Linked DNA regions of Homo sapiens. The gene in region 1 interacts genetically with each later gene. Each region holds a gene or a part of one and is shown in the gene's direction. Other genes may lie near its edges. The genes, in order: BOK, BNIP3L, BAD, BAK1 and BCL2L12.

Region 1 (4,167 bases):
TGCGGGTGGCCCAGGACAGGGGCCCAGCCAGCCCAGGTGGGAGCGTGGCAGTGCGGGTGGCCCAGGACAGCGGCCCAGCCAGCCCAGGTGGGAGCGTGGCAGTGCGGGTGGCCCAGGACAGGGGCCCAGCCAGCCCAGGTGGGAGCGTGGCAGTGCGGGTGGCCCAGGACAGCGGCCCAGCCAGCCCAGGTGGGAGCGTGGCAGTGCGGGTGGCCCAGGACAGGGGCCCAGCCAGCCCAGGTGGGAGCGTGGCAGTGCGGGTGGCCCAGGACAGCGGCCCAGCCAGCCCAGGTGGGAGCGTGGCAGTGCGGGTGGCCCAGGACAGCGGCTCAGCCTCTGCATCTGAGTGGTCCCTGAGCCATGCTAGGGCCTGAGCCGGGCTCTCGGGCTGTCCCCTGCTCTCACCCCAATGCTTTCTCTGCCCAGCCCCTCCCCACGTCGGGCTCCCCTGCTCTCACCCCAGTGCTTTCTCTGCCCAGCCCCTCCCCACGTCGGGGTCTGGCCGTCTGCCTGGTCCCTCCTGCTCTGGGCAGCTCGGCTGCCTGTCGGCTGTGAGTCACCAGCAGGCACGGCCCACGCTCTCGCAGGATTCCCGCCCCACCGGCTTGGCCGGCTAGGCTTAGGGGCTGGCTCGTCAGAGGGGCGGGACTGGGGGCGCCTTCAGTACTTCCTTGGTCTTCTGGTCCCTAGGGGCCAAGGTTGGGGGATGGCCCAAGGGAGGTCAGATGGGGTCAAGTGGAGGTGGGAATCAGACAAGTGAGGAACAGGCTGGAATTCAAGCATGGTCAGGTGGGGGTCAGGTGCAGGGTGTGCCCCAAGCCAGTCGTGTCCCAGGAAGCTGGGACGTGGGCTGCCTCTCACCTGCTCTTGTGACCACACAGGCGATGAGCTGGAGATGATCCGGCCCAGCGTCTACCGCAACGTGGCGCGTCAGCTGCACATCTCCCTGCAGTCTGAGCCTGTGGTGACCGATGCGTTCCTGGCCGTGGCTGGCCACATCTTCTCTGCAGGTATGCCCAGCCTGCCCGTCCCATGGGACCTCAGGGAGGGATCCAGGGTCTGTGGCTCAGGCTCACAGGGACCCCACGAGCTGGCCCCCACCCATCCTGGCGCTGCCCAGTGCCCACCGGTGCCATCTCACTGCTGCAGGTGTCAGGAGCTGCCCAGCCACCAGCGTGGGCTCAAACCACAGCATTCAGGGTCTCTTGTGGTTCTGCAGGCTGGTGGGCATGCTGAGCAGCTGGCACAGGCTTCTTGATTGGTTGTAGTTGTGGTCCAGCATCCGTGGGGCCGCGTGACCTGCAGTCCTGTGGGGTGGCACGTCCTAGGGCTGCCTGGTTTCCTGCAGGGGCCCCCGAGCGGGGCTTGGGCTTCTCACAGCATGGTGCTGTGTCCCAAGGAGGAGTGGCAAGGAGCAGGTTTCCCAGACAGCTCCCGAGTAGATGCTGCCAGGCTGTTAGGATATACCCTCAGAAGTCACGGGTAACTCTGCTGGATTCTGATGGTCAGAAGCGAGCCTCAGGGCTCCAGCGTCCAGGAGAGGGGAGAGCATGGGGGTCCAAGCAGACTGGCTCCCGGAGGGCATCCGGAGAACAGCAGCGCATCTCACCTGGCTGTGCCTGCCTCACCTGTGACCCTCCTGTGCGCTCCCATCTCTGCCCTGGAGAGGCATCTCCTGGCCCTGCCTCCCTGCTCCTGCTGCTCCCGGCTGTCCACATGCTTCTAGGCCCACGGGAGGCTTAGGGCTTGTCTCCCCTACTCGGTGCCCGCTGTCCACTTGTCCAGCTGCCTTGGCCTGGATTTGCCCAGTGTGGCTTCTGTCCGCTTGCCCCATGTCATCAGGTCTGGCCCTGCAGACCTCAGCCCCCTGCCTTTGACCTCTGTGACCTTGGGTCCTGTCCTGGCACCCCGTGCTATGAGCTGCCCCTGGGTGTGGCAGGCGCTGGGTGCTGCTGTTGGGGTGAGTGGTGCGCCGGCCCTGATGTGGCACCTCCCTGATTGGCACATTCCTCAGCTGTTTTCCAAGTGCTGTCCAGGTGCTGGGCACAGCTCTGGGCCAGTGAACCCCGGGGTGCGCAGGATTCCCTGAAGCTTGGAGGAGGGGCATGCTGTTCCCCTGGGGCAGTTTTTTGGAAGACCCCTGACAGCAGGGAGGCCTTGCACACCCTTGTCTGGGAGCTGGTGTGGGTCCGTGGCCAGTCAGCTGTGTGACTGTGGCCTGCTGTCATCTCTGTGGCCTCAGCTGCCTTGTCTCCAGGCAGTCCTGACAGCAGCAGGAGCCAGGCATCAGGCGCCAGAGGAAGCCACACCCTCGCTGTGGGAGATGCATCCCACGCCACGGGGTGACCCTCAGAGCCAGGGGTCTTCAGATGGCCTCGGGACCTCCACCCACCGGAGGGCAAGGGGAAGAGGCCAGGAGTGTGAGGACCACTGCCTCTCGCTCAGGCAGACCCCACCTTTGTGGGGTGTCCTCCAGCTCCTCTCCCAGACGTCTCCTCCGACCCCTGGTGGGCCAGCCAGATGGGGACAGAGCGGGGCTGACACCCTCGGCTGGAGGCCAAGGCGGCGGGGGCTGCGAGCATTTTCTGACAGAATCCGGCCTCTCCAGTGCCACGCTTGCTCACTGCTGACCTCCCTGGACAGAAGTTACTGTGGCTGGGATGCAGCGGCGACCTGGCAGGCTGCTGGAGCGGGAAGGCTGAGTCCAGGGATGGGAGTCCAGGCGGGGTCTGGTCCTGCCTCCGGGCTTGTCTTGTTGCCACAGCATGTGCTGGAGTGCCTCAGACCACACCTGGGGAGGGGCAGTGACCTCAGGCTGTGGTGTGGGGTCAGGAGGCGGAACCAAGCTGGGTGCGGGCGAGACTCCCTGTCTGGCGCTCCTGGGGTGGCCTCAGAGCCTGGACTCTGTCACTGCTCCTGTGTTCCTTTGGGAGATCGTAAATGAATCCTCATTGGCAGTTTGGCTCCAAGGCCCCCACGTGGCAGCTGAGGGTGGGGGGCCGGGCCCAGGCCAGGCTGAGGCGTGTCATGGGGCAGACCTGAGTCGGCTGGGGGTGCATATGGGTAGGGGCTGGGGAGTGGGCAGGTGGTGTGGCTCAGGGGCCGGGTGGGCAGGGGGCAGGGTTCACGGCACAGTGGGCAGCGGAAGCATGGTGGCAGGAGCTGGCAAGCTGGTGCCCGCCCCTCCTGCCGCCAGGGTGACCCAGGCAGGCACGGGGCAGGCAGTGGGTGGGGCCCCGGAAGGAAGCCAGGGGTGGAAGGCATCCTGGGCTGACGACCACTCTCAGCCCTCCCTTGGCCGACGCCGGCGCGTGGGTGGCCACCCGGGTGTCTGTCTCGGGGCCGCTGGGTTTACGAGCTGCAGGCTGGCTTTAAAAGGAACAGTCATTTCTGAGAATGCAGCAGCCTGCCCAGAGGTGGGGCGCCTCCCCCTTCGGCAGGGAGAGAGGATGGGGCCAGGATGCCCCTACCCGCCCGGCCTTGCTTGAGCAGGGCCTGGCCTGAGGTGGGGGCGGTGCCTAGGAAGGCTCTGGTTGGTTCTGGGAGGGCACCTGGGGGCCAGGGAGGGCTGAGGGGAAGGGGATGGCTGGACGAGCGGGCACACAGCTGACGGGGAATGTGGGCGGCACCGGCCAGGTGGCCCGGGCTATGTGTAGAGTTCAGTTTAAGTCTTGTTTTCACTGGAAAACCGGAGCCCACTCCCCTGTGGTCAGCATCCCCCACCCCACCCAGCGCCCCAGGCTTGTCCCACGCAGGCCCGGCTCTGGCCATGTGGCAGCCCCCACACCCCCACCTGCTGCTACTCTGAGGCGGCCCTGCCCGAGGGGAGCCACGCAGGTTGAAGCCCAAGAGCCTCGTGACCTGCAACGGGTTTCTGAACCTCCCTGAACCAGAGCCACCTGACTAGGGAGCTAGGGCAGGGCCGCCCCTTCTGCCCCTCAGGCCCACTGGCAGTTGCACCCCCAGCCCCCTTCACCTTTGTCCATCCCAGTCCTCTTGGGCCCTTTTGTCTACAGGGCGAGCCTCCAGCCTCCAAGTGCTTTACACATCCTTGCCTCCCTGCCTGAGGCCCCTCCCACGCCAGCCATCCCTGCACGCTCTGACCCCCGGTCTTCCTCCCTCTCCTCCTCTTAGCAGGCGCCCTTGAGGGTGTGCGCCCTGCCCAGC
Region 2 (4,167 bases), on another chromosome or scaffold:
AAAGATGGGGAAAAAACAGAACAGAAAAACTGGAAACTCTAAAACACAGAGCGCCTCTCCTCCTCCAAAGGAACGCAGTTCCTCACCAGCAACGGAACAAAGCTGGATGGAGAATGATTTTGACGAGCTGAGAGAAGAAGGCTTCAGACGATCAAATTAGAGTGAGCTACGGGAGGACATTCAAACCAAAGGCAAAGAAGTTGAAAACTGAAAAAAATTTAGAAGAATGTATAACTAGAATAACCAATACAGAGAAGTGCTTAAAGGAGCTGATGGAGCTGAAAACCAAGGCTCGAGAACTACGTGAAGAATGCAGAAGCCTCAGGAGCCGATGCGATCAACTGGAAGAAAGGGTATCAGCAATGGAAGATGAAATGAATGAAATGAAGCAAGAAGGGAAGTTTAGAGAAAAAAGAATAAAAAGAAATGAGCAAAGCCTCCAAGAAATATGGGACTATGTGAAAAGACCAAATCTACGTCTGATTGGTGTACCTGAAAGTGATGCGGAGAATGGAACCAAGTTGGAAAACACTCTGCAGGATATTATCCAGGAGAACTTCCCCAATCTAGCAAGGCAGGCCAACGTTCAGATTCAGGAAATACAGAGAACGCCACAAAGATACTCCTCGAGAAGAGCAACTCCAAGACACATAATTGTCAGATTCACCAAAGTTGAAATGAAGGAAAAAATGTTAAGGGCAGCCAGAGAGAAAGGTCGGGTTACCCTCAAAGGGAAGCCCATCAGACTAACAGCGGATCTCTTGGCAGAAACCCTACAAGCCAGAAGAGAGTGGGGGCCAATATTCAACATTCTTAAAGAAAAGAATTTTCAACCCAGAATTTCATATCCAGCCAAACTAAGCTTCATAAGTGAAGGAGAAATAAAATACTTTACAGACAAGCAAATGCTGACCGATTTTGTCACCACCAGGCCTGCCCTAAAAGAGCTCCTGAAGGAAGCGCTAAACATGGAAAGGAACAACCGGTACCAGCTGCTGCAAAATCATGCCAAAATGTAAAGACCATCGAGACTAGGAAGAAACTGCATCAACTAACGAGCAAAATCACCAGCTAACATCATAATGACAGGATCAAATTCACACATAACAATATTAACTTTAAATGTAAGTGGACTAAATTCTGCAATTAAAAGACACAGACTGGCAAATTGGATAAAGAGTCAAGACCCATCAGTGTGCTGTATTCAGGAAACCCATCTCACGTGCAGAGACACACATAGGCTCAAAATAAAAGGATGGAGGAAGATCTACCAAGCAAATGGAAAACAAAAAAAGGCAGGGGTTGCAATCCTAGTCTCTGATAAAACAGACTTTAAACCAACAAAGATCAAAAGAGACAAAGAAGGCCATTACATAATGGTAAAGGGATCAATTCAACAAGAGGAGCTAACTATCCTAAATATATATGCACCCAATACAGGAGCACCCAGATTCATAAAGCAAGTCCTGAGTGACCTACAAAGAGACTTAGACTCCCACACATTAATAATGGGAGACTTTAACACCCCACTGTCAATATTAGACAGATCAACAAGACAGAAAGTCAACAAGGATACCCAGGAATTGAACTCAGCTCTGCACCAAGCAGACCTAATAGACGTCTACAGAACTCTCCACCCCAAATCAACAGAATATACATTTTTTTCAGCACCACACCACACCTATTCCAAAATTGACCACATAGTTGGAAGTAAAGCTCTCCTCAGCAAATGTAAAAGAACAGAAATTATAACAAACTATCTCTCAGACCACAGTGCAATCAAACTAGAACTCAGGATTAAGAATCTCACTCAAAGCCGCTCAACTACATGGAAACTGAACAACCTGCTCCTGAATGACTACTGGGTACATAACGAAATGAAGGCAGAAATAAAGATGTTCTTTGAAACCAACGAGAACAAAGACACAACATACCAGAATCTCTGGGACGCATTCAAAGCAGTGTGTAGAGGGAAATTTATAGCACTAAATGCCCACAAGAGAAAGCAGGAAAGATCCAAAATTGACACCCTAGCATCACAATTAAAAGAACTAGAAAAGCAAGAGCAAACACATTCAAAAGCTAGCAGAAGGCAAGAAATAACTAAAATCAGAGCAGAACTGAAGGAAATAGAGACACAAAAAACCCTTCAAAAAATCAATGAATCCAGGAGCTGGTTTTTTGAAAGGATCAACAAAATTGATAGACCGCTAGCAAGACTAATAAAGAAAAAAAGAGAGAAGAATCAAATAGACAAAAAATGATACTACAAACACCTCTACGCAAATAAACTAGAAAATCTGGAAGAAATGGATACATTCCTCGACACATACACTCTCCCAAGACTAAACCAGGAAGAAGTTGAATCTCTGAATAGACCAATAACAGGAGCTGAAATTGTGGCAATAATCAATAGTTTACCAACCAAGAAGAGTCCAGGACCAGATGGATTCACAGCCGAATTCTACCAGAGGTACAAGGAGGAACTGGTACCATTCCTTCTGAAACTATTCCAATCAATAGAAAAAGAGGGAATCCTCTGTAACTCATTTTATGAGGCCAGCATCATTCTGATACCAAAGCCGGGCAGAGACACAACCAAAAAAGAGAATTTTAGACCAATATCCTTGATGAACATTGATGCAAAAATCCTCAATAAAATACTGGCAAACCGAATCCAGCAGCACATCAAAAAGCTTATCCACCATGATCAAGTGGGCTTCATCCCTGGGATGCAAGGCTGGTTCAATATACACAAATCAATAAATGTAATCCAGCATATAAACAGAGCCAAAGACAAAAACCACATGATTATCTCAATAGATGCAGAAAAAGCCTTTGACAAAATTCAACAACCCTTCATGCTAAAAACTCTCAATAAATTAGGTATTGATGGGACGTATTTCAAAATAATAAGAGCTATCTATGACAAACCCACAGCCAATATCATACTGAATGGGCAAAAACTGGAAGCATTCCCTTTGAAAACTGGCACAAGACAGGGATGCCCTCTCTCACCGCTCCTATTCAACATAGTGTTGGAAGTTCTGGCCAGGGCAATCAGGCAGGAGAAGGAAATAAAGGGTATTCAATTAGGAAAAGAGGAAGTCAAATTGTCCCTGTTTGCAGATGACATGATTGTTTATCTAGAAAACCCCATTTTCTCAGCCCAAAATCTCCTTAAGCTGATAAGCAACTTCAGCAAAGTCTCAGGATACAAAATCAATGTACAAAAATCACAAGCATTCCTATACACCAACAAGAGACAAACAGCCAAATCATGAGTGAACTCCCATTCACAATTGCTTCAAAGAGAATAAAATACCTAGGAATCCAACTTACAAGGGATGTGAAGGACCTCTTCAAGGAGAACTACAAACCACTGCTCAAGGAAATAAAAGAGGATACAAAGAAATGGAAGAACATTCCATGCTCATGGGTAGGAAGAATCAATATCGTGAAAATGGCCATACTGCCCAAGATAATTTACAGATTCAGTGCCATCCCCATCAAGCTACCAATGACTTTCTTCACAGAATTGGAAAAAACTACTTTAAAGTTCATATGGAACCAAAAAAGAGCCTGCATCGCCAAGTCAATCCTAAGCCAAAAGAACAAAGCTGGAGGCATCACACTACCTGACTTCAAACTATACCACAAGGCTACAGTAACCAAAACAGCATGGTACTGGTACCAAAACATAGATATAGATCAATGGAACAGAACAGAGCCCTCAGAAATAACGCCGCTTACCTACAACTATCTGATCTTTGACAAACCTGAGAAAAACAAGCAATGGGGAAAGGATTCCCTATTTAATAAATGGTGCTGGGAAAACTGGCTAGCCATATGTAGAAAGCTGAAACTGGATCCCTTCCTTACACCTTATACAAAAATCAATTCAAGATGGATTAAAGATTTAAACGTTAGACCTAAAACCATAAAAACCCTAGAAGAAAACCTAGGCATTACCATTCAGGACATAGGCGTGGGCAAGGACTTCATGTCCAAAACACCAAAAGCAATGGCAACCAAAGCCAAAATTGACAAATGGGATCTAATTAAACTAAAGAGCTTCTACACAGCAAAAGAAACTACCATCAGAGTGAACAGGCAACCTACAACATGGGAGAAAATTTTCGCAACCTACTCATCTGACAAAGGGCT
Region 3 (3,335 bases), on another chromosome or scaffold:
CCTAGGCCTTTCCGGATTCCGTCCTCTCGTTCCCTTACTCGCTTTTTTTTTTTTTTTTTTTTTTTGAGACAAAGTCTCACTCTGTCTCCCAGACTGCCAGACTGGAGTGCAATGGTGAGATCTCAGCTCACTGCAACCTCCGCCTCCCAGGTTCAAGTGATTCTTGTGCCTTAACCTCCCTAGTAGCTGGGACTACAGGCCCACACCACCATGCCTGGCTAGTTTCTTTTTTTTTTTGAGACAGAGTCTCACTCTGCCACCCAGGCTGGAGTGCAGTGGTGCAATCTCGGCTCACTGCAACCTCTGCCTCCTGGGTTCAAGTGATTCTCCCGCCTCAGCCTCCTGAGTAGCTGGGATTACAGGCTCGCGCCACCACACCTGGCTAATTTTTGTGTTTTTAGTAGAGACAGGGTTTCACCATGTGGGTCAGGCTGGTCTCGAACTCCTGACCTCGTGATCCACCTGCCTTGGGCTCCCAAAGTGCTGGGATTACAGGCGTGAGCCACCACACCTGGCCTTTTTTTGTATTTTTAGTAGAGATGGGTTTTTGCCATGTTGGGTCAGGCTGATCTCGAACTCCTGGCCTCAAGTGATCCACCTGCCTTGGCCTCCCAAAGTGTTGGGATTACTGGCGTGAGCCACTGCGCCTACTTGCTTTTTTTTTTTTTCTCGAGGTAGAGTTTCACTCTGTCACCCAGGCTGGAGTGCAGTGGCGTGATCTCAGCTCACTGCAAGCTCCGCCTCCCGGGTTCACGCCATTGTCCTGCCTCACCCTCCCGAGTAGCTGGAACTAAGGCGCCAGCCACCATGCCCAGCTAATTTTTTGTACTTTTAGTACAGATGGGGTTTCACCGTGTTAGGATGGTCTCGATCTCCTGACCTCGTGATGCGCCTGCCTCGGCCTCCCAAAGTGTTGGGATTAAAGGCGTAAGCCACCGCACCCGGCCACCTACTTGCTTTCTTAGTCATGTGTCTCATTTATGTGTCCTAGCTGGGACCCCTGGAGGCCCTGCACTGGCCCACAGGCCAGGTCCTCAGGTCCTCTGAGGGGAGAAGAGACATTCCAATGGTTATCCCCCGCCTTCAGTTCCTGGCCTGTAATTTACCTCCTCCAAAGAGCCTCCCTGACAGACATATCTTGCCATAAACACCCAGCATGTTTCCCTACCTGCCTCTCTTTTTTTTTTTTTTTTTTTTTTTTTGAGATGGGTGCAGTGGCGTGATCTTGGCTCACTGTAACCTCTGCTGCCCAGGTTCAAGCGATTCTTCTGCTTCAGCCTCCCGAGTAGCTGGGATTACAGGTGCCTGCCACCGCGCCTGGCTAATTTTTTTGTATTTTTAGTAGAGACGGGGTTTTACCATCTTGGTCAGTCTGGTCTTAAACTCCTGACCTCGTGATCTCCCCAACCTCGGCCTCCCAAAGTGCTGGGATTACAGGCGTGAGCCACTGCGCCCAGCCCCCCACCTGCTTCTCACTCTGTCATTGCACTCTGAGTGTTTGCTCAGGGGAGTGGTTCTAAGTCTTTATCGGTCTGGGTAGAGGAGTGGAGTTGGCAGGAGTTGGGAGATGGCACAGAGCACAGTTCAAATAGACCATAGTAGGCGGGCCTCTGAATAATAACCCATAGTGCACTTGCAGCCTACAAAGCACTTTCTTTTTTCTTTTGTTATTATTATTATTATTTGAGACAGAGTCTCGCTCTGCCACCCAGGCTGGAGTGCAGTGGCACAATCTCGGCTCACTGCAACCTCCACCCACTGGGTTAAAGCAGTTCTCCTGCTTCAGCCTCCTGAGTGGCTGGGACTACAGGCGTGAACCACCACACCTAACTAATTTTTGTATTTTTAGTAGAGACGGAGTTTCACCAGAGTTTGAGGCCAGGCTGGTCTCGAACTTCTGACCTCAGGTGATCCACCTGCCTTGGCCTCCCAAAGTGCTGGGATTACTGGCGTGAGCCACCACGTCTGGCCTTCTTTTATTAATTTTTTAAATTAATAGAGATGGGGTTTTGCAATGTTGCCTAGGCTGGTCTCGAACTCCTGAACTCAAGCAATCCACCTGCCTCAGCCTCCCAAAGTGCTGGGATTACAGGCGTGAGGAATCACGCCCAGCCACAAAGCACTTTCACATTTTTTAATTTTATGTGATGTTCACACAGCCACTGGGAGTCAGGGCTAGGATTATCCCCTCATAAAGGTGAGGACACAGGCTAAGAGAGTCGAAGGCTGGCTAGACAAGGGGAGAGACACAGAGCTCCGCTGATCATCACTGGACTCTGGATTCCACCAAACCTTTGGAACCTTCCAGCCTCAGGCCTCCACAGCTTCACAGAAACTGGGCAAGTCTTAACTCTCTAAGCTTCTGTCTTCTCACCTAAGCATGTTTGGTACTCACCTCCCAGGGTGGTTAGGAGGATAATAAGGGAATGTCTCGGCCTACACGTAAGTGCACCATCAATGGTACCTAAAAACGTCAACAGTTCCAGACACTGTCTCCAGAGAAGGCTCTGTGGGGGATGCGGACATGTAGCGGCCAAGTTCTTGTTCTCCAGGGGCTCTGCAGGTCCCTTGCAGAGGAGGCATTCAATCCTGCCGGCTGTGGCAGGACACTTTCCTATCCAAGGGATTGGCTTCCTCCGATGTAGAACAGACACTATGAAATAGCTACCAACCCAGGGGTTGCCAGGAGGCCCCATGAAGGTCTTGCACTAATAATACTTCTTGCTTTTTTTTTTTTTCTTTTGAGAAAAAAAGCCTGTCGCCCAGGCTGGAGTGCAGTGGCGTGATCTCGGCTCACTGCGACCTCTCCCTCCTGGGTTCAAACGATTCTTCTGCCTCAGCCTCCCGAGTAACTGGGACTATAGGCACGTGCCACTATGCCCAGCTAATTTTTGTGTTTTGAGTAGAGACAGGGTTTCACCATGTTGGCCAGGATGGTCTCGATCTCCTGACCTTGTGATGTAACTAGTATTTCTTATGCCCTTATTTTGTGCTAGGCACAGGGCCTCACCCATTATTGGCACTCGGTAAGGATTCGTGGGATTAATGAGAAGTTAACCTAAATCTTCACCAAAGGCCCCTGAGCTTCCCCTCGATTCACATACAAGGGACTGGGGCTCTGAGAGGTGGGCTGTGATGCGCCCCTGGAAGACCCACGAGTGGGCCTGCAGAGCTGATGGGGAGGGTTCAGGCAGGGCCAGGGGCTTAGAGGAGCTGAGATTAACGTCGCCCCCCTACCCACTGACCCTCTGCAGGCGCTGGGGCTGTGGAGATCCGGAGTCGCCACAGCTCCTACCCCGCGGGGACGGAGGACGACGAAGGGATGGGGGAGGAGC
Region 4 (2,668 bases), on another chromosome or scaffold:
AGAGGGCTGGGTCACGGGCGAGGGAGGCAGGAATTAGAGTGGGGCCTGGCTGCTGTATCCCTCCAGCGGGAGAAATAAGGAAGTAAGCTGGCCAATCACCCAGTCAGGTCTGCTCAACAGGGAACGCAATTATTGTGACTTGGGGAGGAAGTAAGATGGCTGCCCTCCTTCCCTCTTCCCAGGGGATAGCCAGGGAAGCCCCAGCTCACACCTCACGGCGGGCTGTTCCCTGGACTTGGGAATCAGGTCCCAGGTCTGTCACTATCTCCCTGTGTGACTTTTCTGGGCCGCAGCTACAAATTCAGATTTTGTTTCCCACATTTCCCTGCACGCAAAGGGCTGCGGAGCTGAGATGTACTAATGTAGACTCAGGACCCCAAATGCCCGGGACTGTCCCGGTTCCCCGGCTTGTTCTGGCTGTATGACCTTGCACACGTTACTCAGACACCCTGTGCCATTTTCCCCCTGCCAGCTGGGGATTGCCTGCTCCCAGGGCTACTGTGAGGACTCAATGCAAGTGCCGGAACAACTCTCCACACAGCATAAGCTCTAGGGGCGGCTAAGGTGCTGAAGTAGGGATATTTCTTTTCTTTTTTTTTTTTTTGTTTTTTTTGTTGTTGTTGTTTTGTTTTGTTTTGTTTTTTGAGATGGAGTCTCGCTCTATTGCCCAGGCTGGAGTGCAGTGGCGTGATCTAGGCTCACTGCAAGCTCCAACTCCCGGGTTCACGCCATTCTCCTGCCTCAGCCTCCCGAGTAGCTGGGACTACAGGCGCCTCCCACCACGCCTGGCTAATTTTTTGTATTTTGTTTAGTAGAGACGGGGTTTCACCATGTTAGCCAGGATGGTCTCAATCTCCTGACCTCGTGATCCGCCCGCCTTGGCCTCCCAAAGTGCTGGGATTACAGGCATGAGCCACCACACCCGGCCATTTTTTTTTTTTTTTTGAGACAGAGTTTCGCTCTTGTTGCCTAGGCTGGAGTGCAGTGGCACGATCTCCGCTCACCGCAACCTCCGCCTCCCGGGGTCAAGTAATTCTCCTGCCTCAGCCTCTTCTTGAGTAGGTGGGATTACAGGCATGTGCCACCACACCCGGCTAATTTTGTATTTTTAGTAGAGACAGAGTTTCTCCATGTTGGTCAGGCTGGTCTTGAACTCCCGACCTCAGGTGATCTGCCCACCTCGGCCTCCCAAAGTGCTGGGATTATAGGCGTGAGCCACCGCACCTGGTTGGGATATTTCTTTCCATGGGTGAGGACAGCTATGGCCTTAGGAAGAGTGAATCCCCTATAAGGCATGGGGCTGCCAGGGTTCGGCCCTCTCTCCCTGACTCCCAGCTTTGATCCTCAGAGGAGCAGGTAGCCCAGGACACAGAGGAGGTTTTCCGCAGCTACGTTTTTTACCGCCATCAGCAGGAACAGGAGGCTGAAGGGGTGGCTGCCCCTGCCGACCCAGAGATGGTCACCTTACCTCTGCAACCTAGCAGGTGAGCTACAACCGCTGGGCCCACAAGGACATCTTCAGGGAGGCAGTAGCTCGCATGGGTCTCTGTGCAGGTCCTGGGAGCTGGGGAGGCCTCGGGGGTCTTGCCCTTCTCTCATGGTTGCTCCTCTTTTATGTTGGGCTCCCACCCCCATCCAGGACCTTGTATCCTTTTTAGCCCATGCCTGCCCCTTCTCCTGGAGCCCAGCACTCATGTCTTAGAACACTGTCAGGGACCTCCAAGAAGGGATGCACAGGGCCATGGACAGCTCAGGCAGAACCCCTCTGCCATGAGCCAGGGCCTGGTCCCGACTGCCTGGTTACTGGCTCACCTGCATGCCTCCTGCTCCTACAGCACCATGGGGCAGGTGGGACGGCAGCTCGCCATCATCGGGGACGACATCAACCGACGCTATGACTCAGAGTTCCAGACCATGTTGCAGCACCTGCAGCCCACGGCAGAGAATGCCTATGAGTACTTCACCAAGATTGCCACCAGGTACCCCAGCCACCTCCCTGCCAGCTCCAGTCACTCCTCTGTCATGTCACAACCATACCATACCCTGCCTGCATGATGCTCTCCTGGCATGGGGAGAAGCCTTCTGTCAGTGTCCAATGTCTGCTGTGAACTCACATGTGGTCTCGGCCCCCTATTTTTCTCTTTCGGGGTCCCAGACTTGTATTTTGGGCATTAGCTCACAGCTCTTTTGAGCTCTGACTCCAAGGTCTTGACTGGTTAGATCAGGACTCTAGAGGGGGCCTGAGGTGGGGACGTCCCCCACAGCTCCCCAGCCCAGCTGGGACATAGCTGTCCTTCATAGTTCCAATTTGAAACCACATATCACACTGAAGATGGTGAGGGTGCTAACCTCTGCCAGGTCCTAGAAATGGCTCCTACTTGCTATAATCTGGCATCCAAGTGGTTAAAGACACCGAATATTTGGGTGCAAATCCAAGCTTTGCCACTTACTGCCTTCGTGAAGCTTCCTAGCCCTTAGTCTCCTGGTTTGTAAAATAGGGAAAATATGCTTAGATTAGTGTCCACCTTACAAAGTGTTAGCCATTGCTACCACCAGAGTTAGGGAAGTCAGTGTCGGAGTAGATTTGAAACTGGAGGTGAAGGTAGGAGTAAGTGATAGATTTTAGAATTAGTGCTCAGAGCTGAAATATCCAGTCCGTGAACTTAGA
Region 5 (3,409 bases), on another chromosome or scaffold:
TGAGGTCAGCCTGGGCAACACGGTGAAACCCCATTTCTACTAAAATACAAAAAATTAGCCAGGTATGGCGGCGTGCGCCTGTAGTCCCAGCTACTCATGAGGCTGAGGCAGGAGAATTGCGAGACTCCGTTTCCCAAAATCAATACATAAATAAATAATAAATAAAATGGGAATCATTGCCACCTGCCAAGGTAGTTGGGGGAAGGAGAGAATCCGTAAGTTTCCAATGTCCTGGAAACCTGTCATTAACTCTTTTCACCCCAGGCCCAGCTACTCCAGACTTCTATGCTTTGGTGGCCCAGCGGCTGGAACAGCTGGTCCAAGAGCAGCTGAAATCTCCGCCCAGCCCAGGTGAGGCACAGAGGAGCCCCAGAGAAGGATGGCGGTGGGAGGATAGTCAGGGTTCTGCCCCCAGCCAAATTCTCTTCTGCCTCCAGAATTACAGGGTCCCCCATCGACAGAGAAGGAAGCCATACTGCGGAGGCTGGTGGCCCTGCTGGAGGAGGAGGCAGAAGTCATTAACCAGAAGGTGATGGGCATCTGTCCCACTCCTTGGCAAGGACAGGAGTTGCGGAATGGTGGGGCACTGGGATCAGAAGCTGGATCTGTATTTTCTTTGGATGGTCAGGTGGAAAGAGGCTGGGACAAGGTTTCAATGAAGGGTTGAGGCCGGGTGTGGTGGCTCACGCCTGTAATCCCAGCACTTTGGGAGGCCGAGTTGGGTGGATGACTTGAGGTCAGGAGTTCGAGACCAGCCTGGCCAACATGGTGAAACCCCATCTCTACTAAAAATACAAAAATCGGACAGGTGTGGTGGTGCGCTTCTGTAATCCCAGCTACTCAGAAGGCTGAGGCAGGAGAATCGCTTGAGCCCAGGAGGTGGAGGTTGCAGTGAGCCAAGATTGCGCCACTGCACTCCAGCCTGGGTGACAGAGTGAGACTCTGTCTTTAAAAAAAAAAAAAAAAAAGAATAGTTGAATGACAGGGGTATGGTTAGGGTAGTACTGTACCGTAAATTAGTTGTTTTAATTGATTGTTTAGAGGGGCATGGCCTAAATGCAGAGGGTGTGGCCATCAGAAACATTATCCACAAGAGACTGGCCAAGCTGGGGAAGTAAGTGAATGAATGTGGGGGTGGGGGGAGTGGCTAAAATCTTACTGAGCATAGAAGGGACCTGGCTTAGAATGTAGGGGAAAATGTACTACCAGAGGAGGTGTGGCTTGTGGCTGTGTCCTGGAATCTGATTGGCTTCGGAGCTTGGACAAGGTACATCGTCCTTTAATATTAATTGAATGGTAGAGGGCAAGATTGTTGTAGACACTAGGTTGGCCCCTGGGAAAGGTCACCAGGGGCATGGCTAGATTAACTCAGTTACAGTAGAGATTGGCCCTGATTGGCTGTTGAGGCAAGGGCCTGGCATGGCTTAGGGACTCACGTTCCAGGCCACTATCCCGGGGGTAGTTTGGCAGAGACCCTGGAGTCTGGCTTGATTGGCTAATATGGATGAGGGGTGGCCTAGAACCTTAGCATCTAGAACGATCCTGAACCGGGAAGCCACGCCTCCCGGCCCTCTATTGGCTGGCCCCGGGGGCGCTGCTGACGCGGACCCTGCCTCTTCCACCCTACAGCTGGCCTCGGACCCCGCCCTGCGCAGCAAGCTGGTCCGCCTGTCCTCCGACTCTTTCGCCCGCCTGGTGGAGCTGTTCTGTAGCCGGGATGACAGCTCTCGCCCAAGCCGAGCATGCCCCGGGCCCCCGCCTCCTTCCCCGGAGCCCCTGGCCCGCCTGGCCCTAGCCATGGAGCTGAGCCGGCGCGTGGCCGGGCTGGGGGGCACCCTGGCCGGACTCAGCGTGGAGCACGTGCACAGCTTCACGCCCTGGATCCAGGCCCACGGGGGCTGGGTGAGCCGCTGAAGCCTCTCTCTCCGGGCCTCACTTTACCTAACTGTCATGTGATAGAGGAGGGGCGGGGACTTCTTAGGTTCCTCTCAGACCTCAGGTATTCTCCCAGCTCCACTGCGTTCGTTCTGTTGAGCCCTTGCTGTATGCCAGGACTGCAGCGATGAGTGCAGACACTATGCCTGGCGTCAACGACTGGGTACGCTAATACTGTGAGCGTGAAACCAGTGACTGAGGTTACTCAGGGAGAGGCCGGACGGGGTAGCTCATGCCTGTAATCCCAGCACTTTTGGAGGCCAAGGCAGGAGAATTATTTGAGGCCAGGAGTTCAAGACCAGCCTGGACAACATAGTAAGACCCCATCTCTACAAAAATTGAAAATAACTAGCCAGGGTCGGGTGCGGTGGCTCACACCTGTAATCCCAGCACTTTGGGAGGCCGAGGCAGGTGGATCACCTGAGGTCAGGAGTTTGAGACCAGCTGGCCAACGTGGTGAAACCCTGTGTCTACTAAAAAAAATACATAAATTAGCCGGGCGCGGTGGCAGGTGCCTGTAATCCCAGCTACCGAGGAGACTGAGGCATGAGAATCGCTTGAACCTGGGAGGCAGAGATTGCAGTGAGCTGAGATCATGCCACTGCACTCCAGCCTGGGCGACAGAGTGAGACTGTGTCTCAACAAAATAATATAATAAAAACCTGGTGCGGTGGCTCACACCTGTAATCCCAGCACTTTGGGAGACTGAGGTGGGTGGATCACTTGAGGTCAGGAGTTTGAGACCAGCCTGACCATGGTGACATTCAGTCTCTACTAAAAATACAAAATTAGCCCGGCATGCCTGTAATCCCAGCTAGGGAGGCTGAGGCAAGAGAATTGCTTGAACCTGGGAGGCAGAGGTTGTAGTGAGCCGAGATTGCACCACTGCACTCCAGCCTGGGCAACAAGAGCGGGGCTCTGTCTCAAAAAATAAATAAATAAAAATTTTTAAAATTAATAATAATTAGCAAAGCATGGTAGCTCACACGTTTACTCCCAGCTACTCAGGAGGCAGAGGAGCCGGGAGGATCACTTGAGCCCAGGAGTTCAAGGCTGTGGTGAGCTATGATTGCGCCACTGTACTCCAGTGTGGGTGACAGAGTGGGACCCTGTCTCAAAAAATAAAATAGTGAGAGTAGTAGTGCTACCTCAAAGGGTCGCTCTGAGGGTTAAAATGGGGTCAATGTGGTAAGCCCTCTGTGCACTGCCTGGCATGCAGGCATTTTGTTGGTGAGGTTATATGGCTACCTGCTGCCTTTCCAACAGTGCCTGCCAGGATGCCCTCCCGGGGAACCCCCTGCCTCCGTCCTGCTCCTTCTGGTGGGCTCTGGTTTCACCCCCAACGAGGCCTTCCCAGGTCCCCATTGACAATCACAGCCACCTGCACACCCTCCCACCGCCCTCCTTCCCCCTTCCTGCTTTACTTTTCCTTCCATAGCACTTTGGGCCTTCCAACAGATGGTGGAATTGACTT

The links.
Region 2: changes in BOK (region 1) and BNIP3L together harm fitness more than expected from each alone (negative genetic interaction), as found in Homo sapiens cells (one large-scale study listed by BioGRID).
Region 3: changes in BOK (region 1) and BAD together harm fitness more than expected from each alone (negative genetic interaction), as found in Homo sapiens cells (one large-scale study listed by BioGRID).
Region 4: changes in BOK (region 1) and BAK1 together harm fitness more than expected from each alone (negative genetic interaction), as found in Homo sapiens cells (one large-scale study listed by BioGRID).
Region 5: changes in BOK (region 1) and BCL2L12 together harm fitness more than expected from each alone (negative genetic interaction), as found in Homo sapiens cells (one large-scale study listed by BioGRID).

What each region holds. Positions count from the first base shown.
Region 1 is NC_000002.12:241,561,467-241,565,633, forward strand, and holds part of BOK (bcl-2-related ovarian killer protein), read left to right. Parts: intron 1-881; coding exon 882-1,010; intron 1,011-4,167.
Region 2 is NC_000008.11:26,396,513-26,400,679, forward strand, and holds part of BNIP3L (BCL2/adenovirus E1B 19 kDa protein-interacting protein 3-like), read left to right. Parts: intron 1-4,167.
Region 3 is NC_000011.10:64,271,723-64,275,057, reverse strand, and holds part of BAD (bcl2-associated agonist of cell death), read left to right. Parts: intron 1-3,254; coding exon 3,255-3,335. UniProt on the Homo sapiens protein: Promotes cell death. Successfully competes for the binding to Bcl-X(L), Bcl-2 and Bcl-W, thereby affecting the level of heterodimerization of these proteins with BAX. Can reverse the death repressor activity of Bcl-X(L), but not that of Bcl-2.
Region 4 is NC_000006.12:33,574,609-33,577,276, reverse strand, and holds part of BAK1 (bcl-2 homologous antagonist/killer), read left to right. Parts: intron 1-1,348; coding exon 1,349-1,484; intron 1,485-1,835; coding exon 1,836-1,979; intron 1,980-2,668. UniProt on the Homo sapiens protein: Plays a role in the mitochondrial apoptotic process. Upon arrival of cell death signals, promotes mitochondrial outer membrane (MOM) permeabilization by oligomerizing to form pores within the MOM.
Region 5 is NC_000019.10:49,668,587-49,671,995, forward strand, and holds part of BCL2L12 (bcl-2-like protein 12), read left to right. Parts: intron 1-264; coding exon 265-351; intron 352-437; coding exon 438-529; coding exon of another isoform or gene 530-578; intron 579-1,629; coding exon 1,630-1,902; intron 1,903-3,409.